Linked DNA regions of Homo sapiens: all the other regions are reported to be linked to region 1. Evidence: microRNA targets listed by miRTarBase, many of them from high-throughput screens and not tested one by one. Region 1 holds a microRNA gene; each other region holds the end of a gene's coding sequence.

Region 1 (4,121 bases):
CTGAGAATGATGGTTTCCAGCTTCATCCATGTCCCTACAAAGGACATGAACTCATCATTTTTTATGGCTGCATAGTATACCATGGTGTATATCTGCCACATTTTCTTAATCCAGTCTATTGTTGTTGGACATTTGGGTTGGTTCCAAGTCTTTGCTATTGTGAATAGTGCCGCAATAAATATATGTGTGCATGTGTCCTTATAGCAGCATAATTTATAATCCTTTGGGTATATACCCAGTAATGGGATGGCTGGGTCAAATGGTATTTCTAGTTCTACATCCCTGAGGAATCGCCACACCGACTTCCACAATGGTTGAACTAGCTTACAGTCCCACCAACAGTGTAAAAGTGTTCCTATTTTTCCACATCCTCTCCAGCACCCGTTGTTTCCTGACTTTTTAATGATCGCCATTCTAACTGGTGTGAGATGGTATCTCACTGCGATTTTGATTTGCATTTCTCTGATGGCCAGTGATGATGAACATTTTTTCATGTGCTTTTTGGCTGCATGAATATCTTCTTTTGAGAAGTGTCTGTTCATATAGGCATGGGCAAGGACTTCATGTCTAAAACACCAAAAGCAATGGCAACAAAAGCCAAAATTGACAAATGGGATCTGATTAAACTAAAGAGCTTCTGCACAGCAAAAGAAACTACCATCAGAGTGAACAGGCAACCTACAGAATGGGAGAAAATTTTTGCAACCTACTCATCTGACAAAGGGCTAATATCCAGAATCTACAATGAACTCAAACAAATTTACAAGAAAAAAACAAACAACCCCACCATCAAAAAGTGGGCGAAGGATATGAACAGGATCCCTGCTTTCTTTCTCCTCTTTTTTGAGATGTTTCTTCATTTTCTGGGTTTGAGCTATAAGCTTTCTAAAGATGACATAGGTGGAGTTCAGCAAAGAGAGGGAGGAAATGAGTGTTCACTGGTTGGTTGCTGCTTCCTCTGTACCTGTGGCCCGGCCGCCTGCATGTGGTGCCTCTTCTCATCCCCAAGAAAACCCTGCAAGAGTGGTGGGCCCTTAGCCTTTGCTGTTTTGTACATGATGTCCCTTTTGTCTGTGATGTTCCTTTTGTCCATGATGTTCCTTTTATCTGAAATTCTTTTTGATTTCTCCCTCCACTCACCTTCCAAATTTCTACTCCTTTTCAAAGCCCAGTTCAATTACTATTTCTTTTGTGGCATCTGCCTGAATTCCCCAAGCCCCATTAATCCCTTTGTCTGAATTTCATGGCACGAATGTCATCCTTCTATTAGATTATTTACCACATTACAGTACACAGTGTAGTTTGCTAATTTCCCTCCCTGTCCCCTAAGGTTGTCTTTGGGGTGCTAGAGGACAAGATGAGGTCTTATCTCTCTCGGCATCCTGACATCTATCACAGTGCCTAACCCATAGCAGGTGTTTCACAAACATTCCTTTATCGTGTAATAGCTAGCGTTTGTTAGCTCAGCGCATTATCTCAGGCAGTCCTCCATATAACCCTATGGAGTTGGTCATTATCTGATGAGGAGAGTGAGCTTTGAAGAAGTTAAATAAATTGCCCAGGACCACACAGGCAGAATCAGGACGTTAACCAGCACAGACTGAATCTCGAGTCCACACTGTGCTGCATGGCCACCCTCTGGAGGCCTGTGATGTCCCCTCTGACTGCTGCCCTACAGCCAGCAGAGACGATCACTGAACCCAGGCACTTGCACAGCCCAATGCTGAAGAAGGCAGGTGTGGATGCATGAATGAAAGGTGAAGGAGCAAGTGAGTAAACCCACTCTCTGAGTCTTTCATACAATCCAGCTTTCATTCCTGCTCATTCACCCTACCCTCTGCTCCTCCCTTTTAGTCCCCTAAGTACCCCTCCAGCCCTGACCTCCCTTGTCTCACACTGACTTCCTGCAGCACCTCATTGGTGGGTTCCTCAACCCACAGCCTCTTTTTTCCTGTCTCCCTCCCTGTGCCCCACAACACATACAACACCTAAAAATTAATTCTCAAGCCCTGTTGTCAGATCCACACTCCAGGATTGATTTTGGCTTCTGACTCATTGTTGAGTAAAATCTCAGCACTCAAGGCTAACTGTCATTTCCCTACATGTATCTATCACTCTAAACCAAGCAGCGTTGTTGACTGCCCCTGGCCTGTGATTTGCCTGTGTTGCCTCCAGATCTTTTCCTGAGCTATTCTTCTGTGTTTTGAACACCTGTCCCATATCAGGAAATGAGCTGGGTTCTGGGAATACAGAGATTAAAACTTCAGTCTCTGATGCTCCTAGATTAGTGCAAGACAGCTGAAAGAGCAATAACAAAGTCCCATCACTATGGCAGGTGATTCAGAGGAAAGCCCAGGTTGCTATGGAAGCACCTAGGTCATCTACCTTCCCCATCTCCAATAACATCAGCCCTCAGAGCCTTCTCCGTCTGACCCGACTTACCTCTCCTGGGGGGCTTTCTGTGCCTGACGCTTCATCTGCTCCTCTCATTTATGCCAAATTTTCAGAATATATCTGTATTTGTTGATTTATTCATCTGCAACAATATATTTGCTGAACGTGCCTCCTCAACTGGTGAACTGTAATGGGGGAGGAGAAGACAAAAGAAGGCCAACTGGAAGAAATGAAAATGGTGTGTCTCCTTAAGGAGGTTGGATCCCAGAGAAGGAAGATAATGGGAGAGAGAGAGGTGTGGCTTTTGTTGGGCTTCCTCCTAACTATCCATTTTGGTGATGGCTGAGTGTGTCCTGAAGAGAAAGGATTACATGTAACTCAAACCTGATCCACAAAACTTCTGTAGTCCAAGCAACTTCGTGTGAGACCCTTTAAAAGAGCAGACCACAAAGTTAGGATGCAGTGGCTATACAGCCGAGCTGACCACTGAGCACAGGAGACAGAGCCTTGGAACTCTCAGAGATACTGGGGCGGGGAGGGGCTCGTATTGTGAAGGGAGGACCAAAGTCCCACAGGGGCATGCAGCTGGGCAAGCAAAATCTGGTCTGCAGTCGTCCGTCTCACTTGGGTCTAAGGCTAATGAGGCCTGGGGAACACTCACAAGGAGTCTAGTTATGGCTCTGTAGTAGTTTACCCATTGACTGAAGCAAAACAGTCTCCACAAGAGATCCCAGGAGAAACAGAACAGCTGGCCAGGCTCACCTAGCTGGTCCCATAACTTTTCCCACCATCCTGCCAGGCAAACCTTGTCATCTCAGCACCTGGATCCAAGACACTTTGCTGCCATGTTTCCTCACATCTCATCCTCTCTCCCTTCCTAGTCAGAATTCCACATTTGTCACTTTCTGACCTGCATTTGACAACACTCAATGTTGTCTTATCCAAACAACATCTATGATTCAGCCTTCTTGCCCTCAAGTCCAGCATGTTCCCCTCTGGCTCCAAGCCCCTTTCCCTCCAGCCTTTTACAACCACATCACTCCATGTAAGTCACTTGTCCTTTGAACCAGCTGATCTGTGGGCTGAGGAAAGGGTGCTGGGAGCTGAGCTGTAGATGTTCTCTTTGCTGTCTGTCATTCTAGGGGCTTGCCAACATTGGGCAGAGTCTCCTGCTGGCTGAAACTCTCTCACCACAAAGGATTTCATTTTATGTCAGCAGTTTCATAGGCTGAGGGAGTGATAGAGATAAGAGAAACATGAAGAGAATATGCCACAATGACTAAACTCAAGATAGATTTGGGGCAGAGATGTAGAGATTTGGTAAAAGTCCAGAAATCTAAATGCTGGGTGTGCTTACTAAGTGTACCTGTGCATTAAGCTAAGCAAATGGATTCCCTGTCTCCTTGACAACCAGAATACAAACATGTCTTACCTGAATTATCCATTCTCTTTGCCAAAGCCAGTGCATAATTAGTTGGGGAAAAATATACATGCAAGATGAAAGAGTCCACAGCTCTTAAACAATATCCCTCATTGCTCTCTGGTGGAGAGTTCACCTACTCAACCTCACTAACATCTCCCTTGCCTCATTTATCAGCCATGCCTTTCACTTACTGGTGAAAAGCTAATATAGCCTTGCTTCTCCCTCTCAGTCAACACTATTTAAGGGACTGATAAGAAAATTCACTAGGAAGGTTTTTCTGGAAAGCTCTCTATTTATAGAGACA
Region 2 (4,121 bases), not on the chromosome of region 1:
AATTAAGTGCCATTCTGTAAAAGAGATCAGTATTGGATGAATGATGGGGACATCTTTAAGAATGCATTGGGGATTTGAACTAGCTTCTAAAGAATTAATAAGAGAGAATTGCAAATAAAAAGTATAATCTTTTTTTCCTCCATTTCAGGCTGGCTCACAGTTGGACCAACGCTTACAAATAGCAACTACAATGCAGAAACATATGCATCCTATTTCAGTGCTCCTAATTCCTACTTGACTGGTTGTACAGAAGAAATTGAGAGACTTCGACCAAAATCGCCTCCTCCCAAATCTAAATCTGACCGAGGAGGTGGAGCTCCCAGAGGTGGAGGAAGAGGTGGAACTTCTGCTGGCCGTGGACGAGAAAGAAATAGATCTAACTTCCGAGGAGAAAGAGGTGGCTTTAGAGGGGGCCGTGGAGGAGCACACAGAGGTGGCTTTCCACCTCGATAATTGTTGAAGACATTGAACCTATTCATCCTCCTCTAACCTTCTTTATTGTAATTAAATTTCAAGTGGGAGACTTAACTTTAGAACTCACTTCCAGCTTGCACTTTGCTTTAATTTCTCTGAGCTGCAAGAATGTCTTAGCGAGCCTTGCTTGCAGTTGTCACACACACTGTCTGGTTTTTTTCAGGATAAATGAATGATTCTGCCTTTTGTTATGTGCGTGAACAGAATGGAACAACTCAAGTAGCTTCATCTTCAGAGACTGAATTTATTCTGATAGACTTCAGCTAATTACAAAGGATTTTGCTAATTTTTGGGAATAAATAATGGAAAAAGATCCAGTCTGTGGTATCATGCTAGTGCTGACAGGGCCTTGATAGAATAGAGTTGGAAAAGATGGTAAGCTTTTGTCAGGGTTTTAACATTTTCTTGATGAAACAATAAAAAGAGGTAAGCTTTTTTCTTCTTTTTTTTTAAGTTTTAAATAAACTCAGATATAATTTGAATACTGAAGAAATTAAGAGACTTTGAACAAAAACTCTTCCCAAATCTAAATTTGATAGGGGAGGTGGAGATTCCAGGGGTGGGTGAAAGAAGAGATAGAACTTAGCAGGCAGACTTAAAAAAAAAAAAAAAGTTTATCATCATAATCTCAATTTTGTGGCTATGACTCCTAATCACGCTTCCTAAGAAGCAAAGGAGGACAAATATTCATGTGCTAGATAGCACTGTGGTGTGGACTTGAACTTGGATTGACCTTAAATTTTATATTCCTCAAATAAAAGAGAGGCAGCGACAAGATACCTCATTATCAGATGCTTGGTTTATACATTTTGGGACTAAAATACTTGGTGATGAAATGACATACACCTTTAAACTTGTTATGGAGATAGTTTAATGTAAAACCAACTACGGAAAACCCTCAACTTAAGGATACAGCTTGGAAATTGGAACTGCAATTGCCTTTTATTAAAACCATATGGTGTGATGTTTGTTTTTAAAATTATATAAGACTTTATGCTGTCACTTCTCTTGCTGTACTGTAATTCATGTTTTAAATGAATTTGATAATGAAATTATACTATTATCATTCTTGATGAATACTTTTCTTATTTTTATGATTTTTCTAATGAAACTTTAAACTTTTGAGATTTGAGAGTCTGTTTTCTATAAGTAGAATTACTGTTGTTACAAAATGAAAAAGGACTGACCTAAAATCAGTCTCTTCTTTTGGTCTGTGATGGATTTTAATGGCCGTTCTGTGCTCATATATACCTAAGATGAGATTATATTACATCCACCAAAGACTCAGTTTGAAGATAAGGAATGAGTGATAGAAGAAATAAGGCTGAGATCCTTAAAAGCCTAATTAATTTAACTCGCTTAACCCATTAGTACTATCTAGTACAAGACCCCTTTTTTTTTGCTGAAATTATGGTATATTTTCAACTTCACTAATTACAAATTATCTAGATTTAGAACTCTATATGTCAGCATTGACCTGGGAATGAAGTCAGGATAGAGAAATTCCACTTGCCTGTGATGGGTCCTTAGAAGTATCAGCTAAGGAGTGACCCTGTCCTATACACAGGGCTCTCTATTACGTTCCATACCCTGGGCCTACCCAAGGTGACATTCCTGCTGTTTACATGGCATAGGCACCTGTGAGATCAGTGTCACAATTTCATCTTAGAAAGAGGTAGGTATGGCTGCTTTGTCGGTTGAAAGTTAAGGGGAGCCATGATCTACCATATTTAGGAAAAAGTTATTTAAAAAAGAGCAGATGGTGGAAAAAGAATGTAAGACCCAGAATTTATCCCTTTGACAATGAATCTGGCCTTTTTAATAGCAGGATGGAATTGATTCACTAGTTTTTGCTAACTTTCACTTTCAGTAAAGGTTGAGGTGTTGTTTTTGCAATGACTGTGTATTCATTGAGGAAAGGTTTCCAATGAAATTTCATTACTCTGACCTCTTCTAATTTTTGGTCTTCTTTATATTTACATGTCTTACATTCCACAAAATTATTTAGAAATGCTGGGCATGGTGGCTCATGCCTGTAATCCCAGCACTTTGTGAGGCCGATGTGGGTGGATCACTTGAGGTCAGGAGTTTGAGACCAGCCTGACCAATATGGAGAAATCCCATCTCTACTAAAAATACAAAATTAGCTGGGCGTGGTGGCATGTGCACGCCTGTAATCCCCGCTACTCGGGAGGCTGTGGCAGGAGAATTGCCTGAACCCAGGAGGCGGAGGTTGCAGTGAGCCGAGATTGTGCCACTGCACTCCAGCCTGGGCGACAGAGTGAGACTCTGTCTCAAAAAAAAAAAAAAAAATTGTATAGAAATAAATTTTTAGTTGCTTTATGCACTAATTCCTTACTGGGGATAGAAGCTAATTATTGTGAAATAACCTAGTTTAGAAGTTAGAAGATCAGCATGTCTGAGTTTTTACAGAATTATAATTCATGGTATTCCAAACCAACTGTTGTTATTTATTTCCAGTGAGAACCATTTTCCCACTGACCTTCCTCCTTTCAGAGGATGGGGATTAGGAGGCCCAAAGTACTGATTGAGTAGGAATACTTTTTTACTCTTCTTCACTGTGGAGAAAGAAGAGGGCAGGTAGTTGATGATGTCAGGAGAACAGATTTTATGGTGTGGAATACCATACCTAAACACAAATGAATCAGATTAGACCACAGAATTGTGATGATGGCAGTCAGAATGTAATACGGTCATCATGAAACAGCACAGTGTGAGAGGTCAAGGTGTCAACCTGGGAAGTGAGAATCAAGCAGGAGTGTGGCATGGCAACCAACTCACAGATCCAGAGTTGAGAGGGATCACTACTGCAGCAGTTCTGCTCTGTTACTCTGGTAAGTAGTAGAGCCACTTTATGAGCCCTTATTTCCTATCTCCCTTATTCTGAGGCCAGGTCAGTGATATGCTATAGTTTCATTTAAGTTAATGGAGTATAAAGATGGGATACTTGGGAGCTATATTGTGCATCAGGGTGTCACAGCTGCTACTAGGAGTTACTCCTTTTCATGTCTTTTAAAATACTTTCTACCCATCTTAATTGCTAAATTATCTTTCAGTTAGTTACAGCGCTTAATTTAAAACCTGTACTGTTTTCATCCTGAATTTAGAACATAAGATTTAGCCTTTGAAGTATAGTTTCAGACTTTACTAATTTGTTTAATATAATCCTTATTAACATGACAAAATGAAAGCCCTGTTGGGACTTAGTCTAAACAGTAGTCTTTGATCTGAAAGTGTCTCATATTTTGTGATCTATTAGAAACATAAACCTTTGCTTATGCAGAAGGTCTTTCTTAGAACAATCCTGTAATCTTAGGGTTCATGTGTGACTAGCATTATCCTCTCTTTGATGTTGGGTAATAGAGGCTGAACTTTTCTTGTGTATATATAGTTAGTTTTGAGGCCATAAATCTAGGACTTCTCAAAAGATTAGAACATTTATCCAGTAAACTGACTCCATTGAAGACTTCATTTCTGGAAATACCACATTGCTTCTGCTCTCAATAACTCTATCATTTACTCGTATAAATATTGCTAGCTGTAATGCACAGAGAAAAACTACCTCATTCAATCTAGATAATTGGGACATCCTTTTCCAGTAAACCCTTTTTCCACTACTGGATAAA
Region 3 (4,121 bases), not on the chromosome of region 1:
GGGCTCCACTCTAGCATATATGAGTGACTGAAAATTAGGTGAGAGAGTACATAGAGAAAGGGTATCTACAGTCATTCCCTAAAGTTTCCCACATGAATCTGTGCAGCTCCCATGATAAAGGAAGATGTTTTACTCACACTGATCAAGCATAGACGAATTAAATTTTTATCATCTTGGGTATACTATTTTCTTCTCTTGCCCATGATCCTGACTATATTCAGTAAAATTTCAGTGTAAAAAAATCCATCTTTATAGGAAATTTTTCTGGAGGAGATGGGAGAAGGCTGGGAGAAAAAATGTATATACGATACAAATATTACCTTTTGTAAAGTTCTTTGCAACAGTGTTGTAAATTGCATTTCAGACACTTCAAAATAATAAACATACAAAATACAGTACTTTCTTAGTTTTCTGGCAGAGGGACAAAAGATTTCATGCCTGTCAGAGGACATGGGCTCAGATTTTAGGCTCAAAATACAGTGAATTGGCAATAATAGTGGATTACAGGTAAGAGAGAAACTAAAGATCTAAATCCATTAGGTTTCACGTGCAGATGGAATTCTGAAAGGCTAACAACAATGCCCACTGGAAACAATCTGTAGTATCTATACTCTGAACCAGTGCAAAAAAAAAAAAAATCAAAATGCAATTTTCATGAGTTACAAAGTGCAAAGCTCCCCTGAATCCAATGTTACTGATAAACTCAGTTTTGATAGCTTTATAGTACTTTTTAATACCTTAAAGTGTAATCAATAAAAGTTTTGTAAAACAATTTCCCACGTTTCAGTGATTTAACTGATTTAAAATGATCAAAGTCCTAACTTCCTTTGTTACTATCACCTTAATTTTAAAAGGAAAGTTATACTGGTGATACATTAGCAAAAGTTTTAAAATATCATCTTGCATTTTCCTGATTCATTTTAGTAAATGAAAATGGGCATCTAGCCAATATGATTCTTCAATAAACACAATCTATTTGCAAATAATTTAAATATGTTAAGCTATTCACAATTATATAAAAGTTCAACTTTATTTCTAATATTCAAGTTGGACTCATTTAGGCAATTTCACTTCATTTTCATTATGATTTTTTTTTCTTTTGAGACGGAGTTTTGGTTTTGTTGCCCAGGCTGGAGTGCAATGGTGCAGTCTTGGCTCACTGTAACTTCCGCCTCCTAGGTTCAAGCAATCCTGCCTCAGCCTCCCGAGTAGCTGGGATTAGAGGTGCCCACTACCACGCCCAGCTAATTTTTGTATTTTTAGTAGAGACGGGGTTTCACCACGTTGGCCAGGCTGGTCTCAAACTCCTGAGCTCCGGTGATATACCTGTCTCAGCCTCCCAAAGTGCTAGGATTACAGGCATGAGCCACCGCGTCCAGCCTTTTATCATGATGAATTTTAAAAGATATGCTTTAAAACTGAAAATTACAAAACTTTCCTTCTGAAATTAAGGCTGTATTCTTTGCCCTTTTAAACTATGGAGGTGCCTGTTCCTCCTACTATCCATGGTAAAGATGCAGACACAACTTTCCTTTAAAACTGCTTATTGCACTAAAAGATAGCAAAAACAAGTTGTCAGTTCTTAAAATAAACATGATTATATTTCTATAAAAGATGCTGCCAATACAATTCTATAATTATTAAAGCACTATTCTAATAAATATAAAAGAAAAGGAAGCTATACTTCCAAACACATACATATGTGTTTATATACACACACATACATATATATATATAAAAAATATATGAAAATCACATTAAGGTATGAGAGGCAGCAAGTAAACTATCAAAAAACAAAACAAAAAAATCCCTCAACAAACTCTTCTCTCTACTCAATTTCAGAGGTCTCAACCCTACAGAGCTCTAATCTTTTAAAATATTTACCCTTTATAAAACCTTTAAAGAATTTCCATGTATAACCCATAGAAACAGAAGGCTTCAGAATACACATCACTTACCAGAGAGAAAGTTACAACTTCTGACAGGTTTTATATTTATAGCAGCTTTAACAAACTCACTAAAGAAAAAGAATAGTAGGCCGGGTGCGGTGGCTCATGCCTGTAATCCCAGCACTTTGGGAGGTCGAGGCGGGTGGATCACAAGGTCAAGAGATCGAGACCATCCTGGCCAACACGGTGAAACCCCGTCTCTACTAAAAATACAAAAATTAGCTGGGTGTGGTGGCACATGCCTGTAAACCCAGCTACTCGGGAGGCTGAGGCAGGAGAATTGCTTGAACCCGAGAGGCGGAAGTTGCAGTGAGCCGAGATCTCGCCACTGCACTCCAGCCTGGTGACAGAGCGAGGCTCTGTCTCATTAAAAAAAAAAAAGAAAGAAAAGAAAAAGAAAAAAGAAAAAGAATAGTTCAGGTTGCTACTGCTTATATACAAATTGCGCAAATGGTAAATGTATGTTCTGAGTGGGAGGGGAGAGACGCACTCTCACAGAAAGTTATTTTATGTATATATATGTGTGTGTCTGTGTCTGTGTATGTATGTATACATATATATATAAAATTTTGTTTCTTAAGACAGCAATATCAAGAGTTGAGAACTCAGAATTGTGTATGAGATAGGAGTCAGGAGTAGGGTATGCAAAATAAAAGTAGAATTCTAGTTTGCCATATTTTATATTCAAACGAACCAGATACATCAACATTTGAATGTCACTGGTAGGACTGGGAAAAAAATGTAGGTGATGAAGGCAAGGGAAATAGAGAAATAAAGGCGGTAGTGGGGGTAGAATAAAAGGGAAAGAAAATTCCCCAATGGAATGAACTCTAAAATATATAACAGACACATATATATCTATTATCAATCCAGATCTAGATATATATGCATATGAAGTATGGATGTATATATTTTAAAAATACACAGACACCTTTTACAAGAATATATGAATGCACATTAATTTTTTGCACACATAATTCTGAAAAATCACTTTGATTATTCATGAAGGTGTGTATTTTTTAAACCATCATTTACTTTTTCTTTACTTTTTTTTGCAAAGATAGTTGTGCTGCCAAGCAACTTGAGGTAAAGGCATTAAAAGGGTTAGACTACAAGAAATGAAAACAAAACAATTGCGATACTTCCTATAGGAGACCGCACAAAAAGCAGTTGGCTGGTTTCATATTGCATAATGATGCTGTGTTCCTTGATGAAGTAAACAATCTTCCTTGTATTAACATAAGGATCAGACCTTGGCCCCCACACAGTGTTGGTTTCTGTATGGCTGGAGGTGTCCTTACTCAATTGACTTCACTGGAAACATACGTTGTATGTCAATTCATCTTTCAGTACTTCCTCTCAGAGAATATACTTGGACTATTTAAGCGAAGTACATTGTGCGTAAGGTATCTTGGTGAATCTGTACAGCCTTGGCAAGAGCTTGTGGATCTCGCCCATTGCTTTGTCCTGAAACGTGACTTCCTTCAGCACTGTAAGAGAAGTGGCAATGAACACAAAAACAAACTTTCTATTCTGATGTAATAATTCCGAAAAATACTATTTGTTGTAGAAAATTTCAAAATTATTAACAAATAAGAGACTGGTGTAACAATCTATGTGTCCATCACTCAGCTTCAATCACTATTAACTCAAGGCCAATTTTGTTTTACTTCTCTCACCTCCCCAGAATTAATTAGAAGCAAACCTAGATATCGTATCATTTTGTCTATCTGTCTGAATGTATCACTTTATTACCAATAATCTCTCCTTTGAATTAATGTAGTAAAACAACTAAGTTACTACATGATTCTATTACTAATGAGCCTAGACAATATATTTCAATAGGAAACCTTGGGCAGTCAGTTCTGTCATCATTTTTCACATGGATCACTGACTCCGCTAATAGCTTGTGGAACTTGAAAATCCTACCATGCAGACAATATTGGGATTTGGGTGAGAACCTGTTATGCTTTTATATTACCTGTCATGTTCTTTGTCCACAAGATGATATCTGGCTCTAAATGCTACCAGGTGAGCATAATACGCTGGTGCAGGTATAGAAACAGATCGTGTACAGCGTACGTAAGTGTGGCAGAGCTGGTAAGTTAGCAGCTGAAGTTCATCTGCAGTAAAGCAGTTATCATCCCATAAAACATGATAGTGTGAAGGACG
Region 4 (4,121 bases), not on the chromosome of region 1:
CCCGAGTAGCTGAGATTACAGGCTCCTCCCACCACGCCCGGCTAATTTTTGTATTTTTAGTAGAAACGGGGTTTCACCATCTTGGCCAGTTAAAGGCATATTTTAAAATGTTACTCCCTTGCTTAACATCCTTACAAATGTTACTCTCTTGCTTAACATCCTTAGTGGCCTTTGGAAATGCTCCAACCTGGTACTGGAAGTTCTTAAGAATCTGGCTTTTACCTACCTTTGAAGCCTCGCTCTCTCTCTCTTAGCATTTTCTCGACACATCTGCTTTTCAAAAACCAAGCTATCCTCATTGTTCCTAAAGCAGCTAGGCTCTTTCGGGCACCAGTGTCTTTCACTATGTTATTCTCTCTCCCTGAAATAGCTCTTTACTTGGCAAAGTCCTATGGATCTACCAGAGCCTCTTGGATAGCATCTCTTTTGGGAACCCTCTTAAGGACCCTCAGACCATACTCCTCCCGGATTTATTTCTTGCTTAACACAGCTTGACTTCCCGGACAGACTGCGACCTCCTTGAGGATGGAATCGGTATTTTGGTTAAATTTATTTCTGCATGGGCCTTGCACATAAAAAACGTTTATTGAACAAACGAATCCTGTATGTTCCTCCCCCCAGGCAGGAAACGCTCCCTGGGAGGGAGGGTAGTCTATTGGTGAGCTAGGACGTTTGGACTCAGGGTTCCGAGGAACCAGGAGCGATCCTTAGTGGGCCGAGACTTCCGAATTTGATCAAAGGTAAAGAGGGACTGGAGAGCGGTCCATCTGACTTCTGTGGGGGATGGGCAGGAGTCAGGGGCGGACGCCTGAATCTTGTTTCTCAGAAGAGCCGAGAGGCCTAGGCTCAAGCTTGGGGCGATCCGGTACTTGGAGGTTCGAAGCTCCTAGTTTCGGGTTGAGACCGATGTGGAGGGCGATGACGCGCGGGTTCCTTGACATCGAGGATCAGTAACACCCGGAGTGGGTGGGGAACGAGGGGGGCGGCCCCTGAGCTCAGGCCCCGCCCCTTTCCGGGGACGTTTCACCGGATTGGCTGTCCTTCCATAACGACATGCGGCCCCGCCCCGGCGCGCGCCCCGCCGCGTGCCCAGCCCGGGTAGCTGCTGCAGCCTACGCTGCCTCGGCCACTGCCTGCCGCGTGCGGAGCCGGAGCCCGAGCCTGAGTGGCGCCGGGCCCGACGTGGGGCTCCTGGGCCGCGGCGGCGGGCGGGCGATGCTCCAGAGGCCTGACCAGCCATGGAGGCCGAGGCAGGCGGCCTGGAGGAGCTGACGGACGAGGAGATGGCGGCGCTAGGCAAGGAAGAGCTAGTGCGGCGCCTGCGGCGGGAGGAGGCGGCGCGCCTGGCGGCACTGGTGCAGCGCGGCCGCCTCATGCAGGAGGTGAATCGGCAGCTGCAGGGCCACCTGGGCGAGATCCGCGAGCTCAAGCAGCTCAACCGGCGTCTGCAGGCAGAGAACCGTGAGCTGCGCGACCTCTGCTGCTTCCTGGACTCGGAGCGCCAGCGCGGGCGGCGCGCCGCACGCCAGTGGCAGCTCTTCGGGACCCAAGCATCCCGGGCCGTGCGCGAGGACCTGGGCGGCTGTTGGCAGAAGCTGGCCGAGCTGGAGGGCCGCCAGGAGGAGCTGCTGCGGGAGAACCTAGCGCTTAAGGAGCTCTGCCTGGCGCTGGGCGAAGAATGGGGCCCCCGCGGCGGCCCCAGCGGCGCCGGGGGATCAGGAGCCGGGCCAGCACCCGAGCTTGCCTTGCCCCCGTGCGGGCCCCGCGACCTAGGCGATGGAAGCTCCAGCACTGGCAGCGTGGGCAGTCCGGATCAGTTGCCCCTGGCCTGTTCCCCCGATGATTGAAGGCACTGCTTCCTCCACGCCGACGCCCGCCCGGATTGCTCCCCGAGCCCCGGGACCGCTGTGGACCTCGGGACCTGGACGCCGTCCTGGCTGCGCAGGAGGGGCCGCTGGCATGGACTAAGAAATCCTGACACCAAGAAGGGCCCCTCGCTCTTGCTGGCAGGGCAGCAGGGGGACTGAAGGCTGGAGCGGAGGGACTTGCTGGGGGTTGGATTGGGGGTAATAAACCCGGACGGAAGCGGAGCCCACGGCCTGGGCAGCGTCTGTTTGGTACTCGCCGGGGTTGGGGCGAGGGTGGGGTGCTGATACAGGGTACAATTCCCATCCAGAAGGACTGCAGAACTAATGATTCCCCCATTACTTCGAGCCTGGGGTGGGATGCGGGGCAGTGGTAAACCAGACTTCCCCCATCGGGCGCCGGGACCGGCCTTAATCCAGCCCCTGAAGTGGCTCCAGCTCCCTTCCCGGCTCCTTCCTGTCCAAGACAATGGGGCAGGAAGCAGGTGCTGGGGGCCTAGAACCACTCGGCCGCCTCCTCTGAGGCTGGAAGGGGGCATAACAGCGCCCCTCCGTGGCACACGCAGCAGCACTGTGGGCCCCCACGGGGAGAGGGGCGGTAAGCCTCTTCGCTTTTACCCCAGAGGACTGTCTCCCCTCAGTCCCGGAGATGAGGCCGAGCGGATGTAGCCCCACTTGTCAGATAAGACAAAGTCCAAAAATATCAAAGAATTTGTCCAAGGTCATGCAGTGAGTCTGTAGAGCTAAGGCTGGGACCTAGGGCTCCAAATACTCTCCCATTGGCCTCTGGGTCCAGTGAGGCACTCAGGCCACAGCTTCAAGCCTTTTATTCCATTTTGGTAGGTTTGTATAAAAATACTCTCTTTAGGAAAATAAATAGCAGCTGCCCTCGCTGTGGAGGCTTGGATTCCCTGGAGCTGAAGGCTTCTCAAAGCTGAGATCCGCAGATCAGCTCATCACAGAAGCCAAGGGCGCCTCCTGAGCTGTGCGGTTCAGGAGGGGGCGGCAGAATGGCCTGGTCCAATCACCTGCTGCTGCTGGCAGTGGGGCTGGTGAGTTAGTGTTCTAGGTGGGTAAAGTGGCACCTTCTGTCAGGAGATAGGGTTGGGTGGATCACAGGAAGAGGGTGATGGAGAGTGTGGCAGTGATCTGGAAGGGGTTAGGGCTCCAGAGGACCTCTAAGGATCTACAAAGTCTCTGGGCTGCCAGGATTCCTCTGGCACAAATGGGAAATATTTTGTCTCTGATTTAGTGCAAATTGTGCTAGAGAGGCCAGCTCAAGAGAAACAGTGGGCAGCTTTGGTGGCCCCAAGCTGGCTCTACTGTGAAGCACAATATGGTCAGTCTCATTAGAGGGATGGAGAAGAAGTTGCTGGAGTTGGATGTGGGATACTGTCCAGGCCAGCTGGACCGGTGGGGGAAGGGGAGGAGACATTGGCTAGGGTGGCATCTGCAGGGAGTAGGGCTCAGGCGCCTCACAAAGCGAGGAGGGTTGGAGAGCCAAGGGGGTCAGAGGATGGGTCTCCGCTGCTGCTGCTACTCTTGCGATGAGCTGAGGCACAAGGCTCAGGAGTGCTGGGGTAGGTGAAGACCAGGCTGGGGGTGAAAGGAGTTAGGGAGGGTGTGGTCATGAGTGTGGGGGTGTGCAGTGCCTCAGGTTCAAGCACAGGCCCTGGGGAAAGGGAGATACAAGGTACAGGGCGGCAGGGGGCTGGTGGGCTGCTGGTGCCACTGGTACTGCCTGTGTCCCCCTCCTTGGCTCCTTCCGGGATTTTGCAGATGGGTCGGTGGGCTTCCAGCACCAGCTCTAGGCGCTCCTTCTGCTTCTGCAGCTCCTCAATCTCTCGCTGCAGCCCAGATTTCTCATCTTCCAGTTTGTCAGTCTCCTGTAGAAGATCAGGAGAGGAGTCAGAAAGGTGAGGGCTGAATACCCCAGAGCCGCAGACGTTTGGACTCAGGGTTCTGAGGAGCTGGGGTTGGGCGGGGGGAGAGGGGGGGCAGTGGAGAGTCCCCAGCAAGTCTGGACTACAACTCCCATAAGCCCCTGGGAGAAAATGGGCACAACTCCCATCAGGCCCAGACGTTTTAGGAGATTGCTGGCACCAGGCAGTGACTCCGGCCTGTAATCCCAGCACTTTGGGAGGCTGAGGCGGGCGGATCACTTGAGACCAGGAGTTTGAGACCAGCCTGGCTAACTTGGCGAAACCCCGTCTCTACTAAAAATACAAAAATTAGTCGGGTAGGGAGGCAGGCGCC
Region 5 (4,121 bases), not on the chromosome of region 1:
GAAGAGACAAGTGCATAAGATGCCTTAGAAGCTCCGAAGCTATAGTAATCAGATCTCTTAGTTATGTGAGAGAAACTCAATCTGAAACAGTTTAGATGAAAAGGGAGAATTCATTAGAAAGGTCATGTTACCATGGGAAAGGCAGAGGTCCAGCCAGACTGAATGGTAACAGAAACCAGGAACTTGAACATCACAGGGCTTTGCTTCATCTCCATTTGTACCCATTATCTCAGTTTGCATTTCTTTACTTGAGACTAAACAGAGTCACATCTCCCACCTTCATGGCCATAGAGGGACTGAGAGATGAACACTCAAAAAATGTTAATTATTATTAAGGCTTGACTTAAAAAAACTATAAGATCTATATATCATTCAGTGGGCTCAAGTATCTCTTAAAAAGTTGCCAGATTCTGAGCCATATAATGAAAGAAAAGTATTTACGAACATGTGTCTTACAAAGGACTTTAATACAGTATATATAAAGAACTTTTACAACTCAATAAGACAAACAATCCAATTAAAAGTGGGCAAAAGATTTGACAGCCACTTCACAGAAAATATACAACTGGCCAAAAAGTACCTTAAAAGATGCTTACCAGCATTAGTCACCCGGGGAAATGAAAATAAAACCACAATGAGATACCACTAGATTCCCATCAGAATGGCTGAAAACTGAGTGTTGGCAGTTGGAACTCTATACAACCCTGGTGGGAATATAAAAGGGTATAGCCCCTTTGGAAAACAAACAGTTTGGCAGTTACTTTATTAAACATAAATCTGCCATGCAACCCAACCATTTTACTGGTAGGTATTTACCCAAGAGAAAGGAAAACCTATGTCTACACAGTGGCTTGTACACAAATGTTCCTAACAGTTTTATTCACAGTAGCCCCAAACTGGAAACAATCCCAAGGTCCATCAACAGGTGAGTAGAAAAACAAATAATGGCATATTCACATAATGGGACACTACTCAGCAATAAAAGGAATAAGCTACTGATACACTGCAACCTGGTGAATTTCAAAGTCATTGTGTGTGAAAGAAACCATAAACAAAAAAGTACATGCTACACAATCCCATTTATATAAAATACTAAACACCACCACAAAGCAAACTAATATATGGTGACAAAGACAAATCAGCAGCGTGAGGGATGGACTGCAAAGGAACTTGAGGAATCTTTTGGGGGCGATGGAAGTGTTCTGCATGTTGATGGTGACAGTGGCTTCATGGCATATACATCTGTCAAAATAACCATTGAGTTGTAATTCTAAACAGATACAGTTTACTGTAACTTGATAAAGCTGAATTTAAAAAGCTGCCAGAGTATTCTGAAATCATGCCTTCTTTTCTCCCTCTGGACCAAGCACCCGCCCAAGCAAGCCAACTTTAACAAAATTATCTCATAGATTTTGGATTTTTTTTTTTTTTGCCATGTTAAAGTTGTATTAAGTTTCAATACAAAACATTCCAAAAAGTGAAAAGTGATCTATAATACCCAAGTTCTATGTTCAACTACCACTTAAACAAGGAAAACATTTTCTAATATCATTCTGTTTTACAACCAGTATAAACCCAGAAGAATCAAGATCTGATTCTTTTTCCACACGTCTGCTAGTTCAGTAAACTATTTATCAAACAGGTGTCTGGTCATTTTAACATACTCCTTGCTTTGAACAATATTCATTCATATTTGGTACAAACTCTATATCCTATATTTAGGATATCTAAATATTTTAAATATTTAGGATATCTTAAGAGCCAAAAGGTCCTCACAGAAGCTTTAACCCAAGTAATCATAAGAATATGGAAGGATTCGGCTAAGACAACTATGGAAGTGTAACAACCACATAAATTTGGTCATTACCCTTGTGGTCTGTGATTAGTAGTAGTCTGCCAAATGAGAGTTAAAAATGTTGTACTTACTATCCCTAGTTGCAAATGTTAAAACATGACAGTGCCATAATTACAACAAAAAAAATTAGAAGTTGAGTTAGTTCCTCTAATCCAACAACTCAAGTCTGTTTCCTTTGAGAACATTACACTATTGGCTCTAGTCTCCAAAGCAATAAACTAAAACTTGTTTCCAAGACGGGGAGGTAAAGCAGGCTTATAAAACAATACAGCAAAAGAAAGCCAAGTGGCCCAATTGTTTCCAGTGTGTTTGCCATCTTAGCATGGTTGTTACTTTCCAGATGTCACTCATAAGTTTTATTCTACAACTAAACTGTTTGTGGATAAGCCACCACAAAAAAATGTTTCACTTACTGACAAGACACTTCACCAGATAGAGCTACCACTTATATCCATCATTTTTATAATTCATCTTAAGTTCTAAATTGAAGAGTTGTCCCCATGACTTTAGCTAAACAAAATGAAACCCAAAGCTGTAAAATCTGTGTAAAGGACCACGAGAACCTCCTGACTACCTCCACTTACCAATTTCCTTAATTACTTCCCCTTTTCCATTTGGTCAATTACTTAAGTAACTACCACTCACTCCCTAGTTATGAGTGTTAATCAACACTGATGCCTTCCTGAGATCCACAGGAACCCTTGAAGGCAAAATCTATTGCCTGCACCAAACCAATTCTGACAGCACTGCTTATGCAACTGCACTGACTTACCAACAATCAGCCGCCTTCTGCTTCAACAACTCTTAGCATTTGATTTCTCTTACTGCCAGCGTTATCTACTGTGAATCAATCAGCACTCCACAAACATAATGAGCACAATCTTCAACCATCTTTGCTGTTTCACAGGCATTTGATGCTTTAAATCTGATGTGGAATGCTGATAGATTCACTTTTTAGAAGTCATAAGCCTTTAGGAAGTTGGAGATAAATTCATTGCTTATCTATTTTCTCCTTTGCAATCAAGCTGTTCCTTTAAAAGTGAGACATTAGAGTTGCAAAAATTTGAAAGAGTAAGAGCAAGCACCTTTGCAGCTTCATGGTTGGTTTTGGCCAAACTTTTTATTTAGTATTCCGTAGTTGTTTAGCACACACTTAAATGGTCTTATTGTGGGAGGGGAAAGGGGAGGTTCTTGCAGATTCCCAAGGAAATGTCAGAAAGGCAAAATGGCCAGCATTATCCATTTGCTTTTTTTGGGTTTACTGGGTGAATAGCACTTTCCTTACATAGGCATCTGATTTCAGGTTTTGCATACTGAGAACAGTGAGATTTCAGTTAGAAAACACCCTGAAATCTTATGAGTAGCATACTCCAACCACCCTCTAATAGCTAGCTTGTTTGTATAGGCAGAATGATTCATCTCTCCATTTTAGTTGGCTAGATGTTTTGTGGAAGATCTTAGAATTGCTTGCCTCATTTACTGGGAAAAACCAGATAGGAAGTGGTCTTTAGGGACACCTTTACTTGGAAAGTTACAACACTAGTACTACAAGGCTTAACACATTTAACATTTGCTTGTTGAAAAGCAATGTCATAAAGTCAAATAAAATTAAACATGTTTTACTTTTTTCCTCACAAGAACATAAAAATTACGGAAGGGACTTAACAGGGAATTTAAAAAAGGTAACACAATTTTTCCTTTTAGTAGTCCTTGGGTAGTTATGATAGAATAGTTTCCACTCTTTTTTTTGTTTCTTTGAACTGGGATTTTGGTCCAAAGTTTTGTTTGTTTCTAGTATCTGCTTCTGCCTCCCCCTCTATCAGATCGGCTTCCTCCAGGGCCAGCACCTCTTGGTGCTCCGCGGCTTGAACTGCTGTAGGAATCACGTGAAGAAGGGTACCCCCTTTCTACAGAAGGGGGAAGCCCTCTTTCTTGTCTGCCAACCCTGTCACAACTTGAGTAGAGATCACTTCGGCTGCTTGAGTAACTGTCTCGACTTCCACCATATCCATCACGTGAGCTGCTATAATCATCATAGCGACTGCTTCCACCATAAGATGGCGGGGGCCCTCGTGTAAGTGGAGCACTACGTGAGTTACCATAACTCTCATATGAATCTCTGTAGGAACCTCCACTTGGATGATCTGAATAGTCACGATCACGACCATATCCATCTCTATCGCCATAGCCTCTTGATGGATAGTCATCACGTGAACTGGAATGACCATAATCACGGTAAGTATAATCTCGTGGTGGTGGTGCATAA

Evidence for each region. The annotated mature microRNA hsa-miR-8079 reads CAGUGAUCGUCUCUGCUGGC and lies in region 1 at 1,678-1,697, opposite strand. An mRNA with a match to its seed (bases 2 to 7 or 8) in the 3' UTR can be bound and repressed. Matches are read on the target gene's strand: a 7mer-m8 pairs with bases 2 to 8, a 7mer-A1 pairs with bases 2 to 7 and ends in A, and an 8mer does both.
Region 2: miRTarBase lists METTL14 as a target of hsa-miR-8079. Seed matches in the 3' UTR shown: 7mer-m8 at 2,544-2,550 and 8mer at 3,295-3,302.
Region 3: miRTarBase lists AGO3 as a target of hsa-miR-8079. The part of its 3' UTR that is shown has no 7-base or 8-base seed match.
Region 4: miRTarBase lists FOSL1 as a target of hsa-miR-8079. Seed matches in the 3' UTR shown: 7mer-m8 at 3,009-3,015.
Region 5: miRTarBase lists RBMXL1 as a target of hsa-miR-8079. Seed matches in the 3' UTR shown: 7mer-m8 at 1,484-1,490.

Annotation. Positions count from the first base shown.
Region 1 is chr13:44,194,494-44,198,614 of GRCh38, forward strand. MIR8079 (microRNA 8079) reads right to left here and starts at 1,707; the gene lies at 1,636-1,707.
Region 2 is chr4:118,709,850-118,713,970 of GRCh38, forward strand. METTL14 (methyltransferase 14, N6-adenosine-methyltransferase non-catalytic subunit) reads left to right here. Exons shown (of 11, transcript NM_020961.4): 11 at 149-4,121. The coding sequence ends at 453. Among named protein-coding and RNA genes, the nearest start is that of METTL14, 27 kb to the left of the region's middle.
Region 3 is chr1:36,054,955-36,059,075 of GRCh38, reverse strand. It overlaps AGO3 (argonaute RISC catalytic component 3), which reads right to left. Exons shown (of 19, transcript NM_024852.4): 18 at 3,931-4,121; 19 at 1-3,439. The coding sequence ends at 3,331. Among named protein-coding and RNA genes, the nearest start is that of TEKT2, 27 kb to the left of the region's middle.
Region 4 is chr11:65,889,546-65,893,666 of GRCh38, forward strand. FOSL1 (FOS like 1, AP-1 transcription factor subunit) reads right to left here. Exons shown (of 4, transcript NM_005438.5): 4 at 2,504-3,751. The coding sequence ends at 3,341. CCDC85B (coiled-coil domain containing 85B) reads left to right here and starts at 1,128. Exons shown (of 1, transcript NM_006848.3): 1 at 1,128-2,090. The coding sequence starts at 1,239. The coding sequence ends at 1,847. RefSeq lists a silencer at 919-1,398 and enhancers at 2,539-2,588, 2,629-2,788, 4,073-4,121.
Region 5 is chr1:88,979,008-88,983,128 of GRCh38, forward strand. It overlaps RBMXL1 (RBMX like 1), which reads right to left. Exons shown (of 3, transcript NM_001162536.3): 3 at 449-4,121. The coding sequence ends at 3,647. The region is part of intron 2 of KYAT3 (kynurenine aminotransferase 3); the gene reads right to left. Among named protein-coding and RNA genes, the nearest start is that of KYAT3, 12 kb to the right of the region's middle.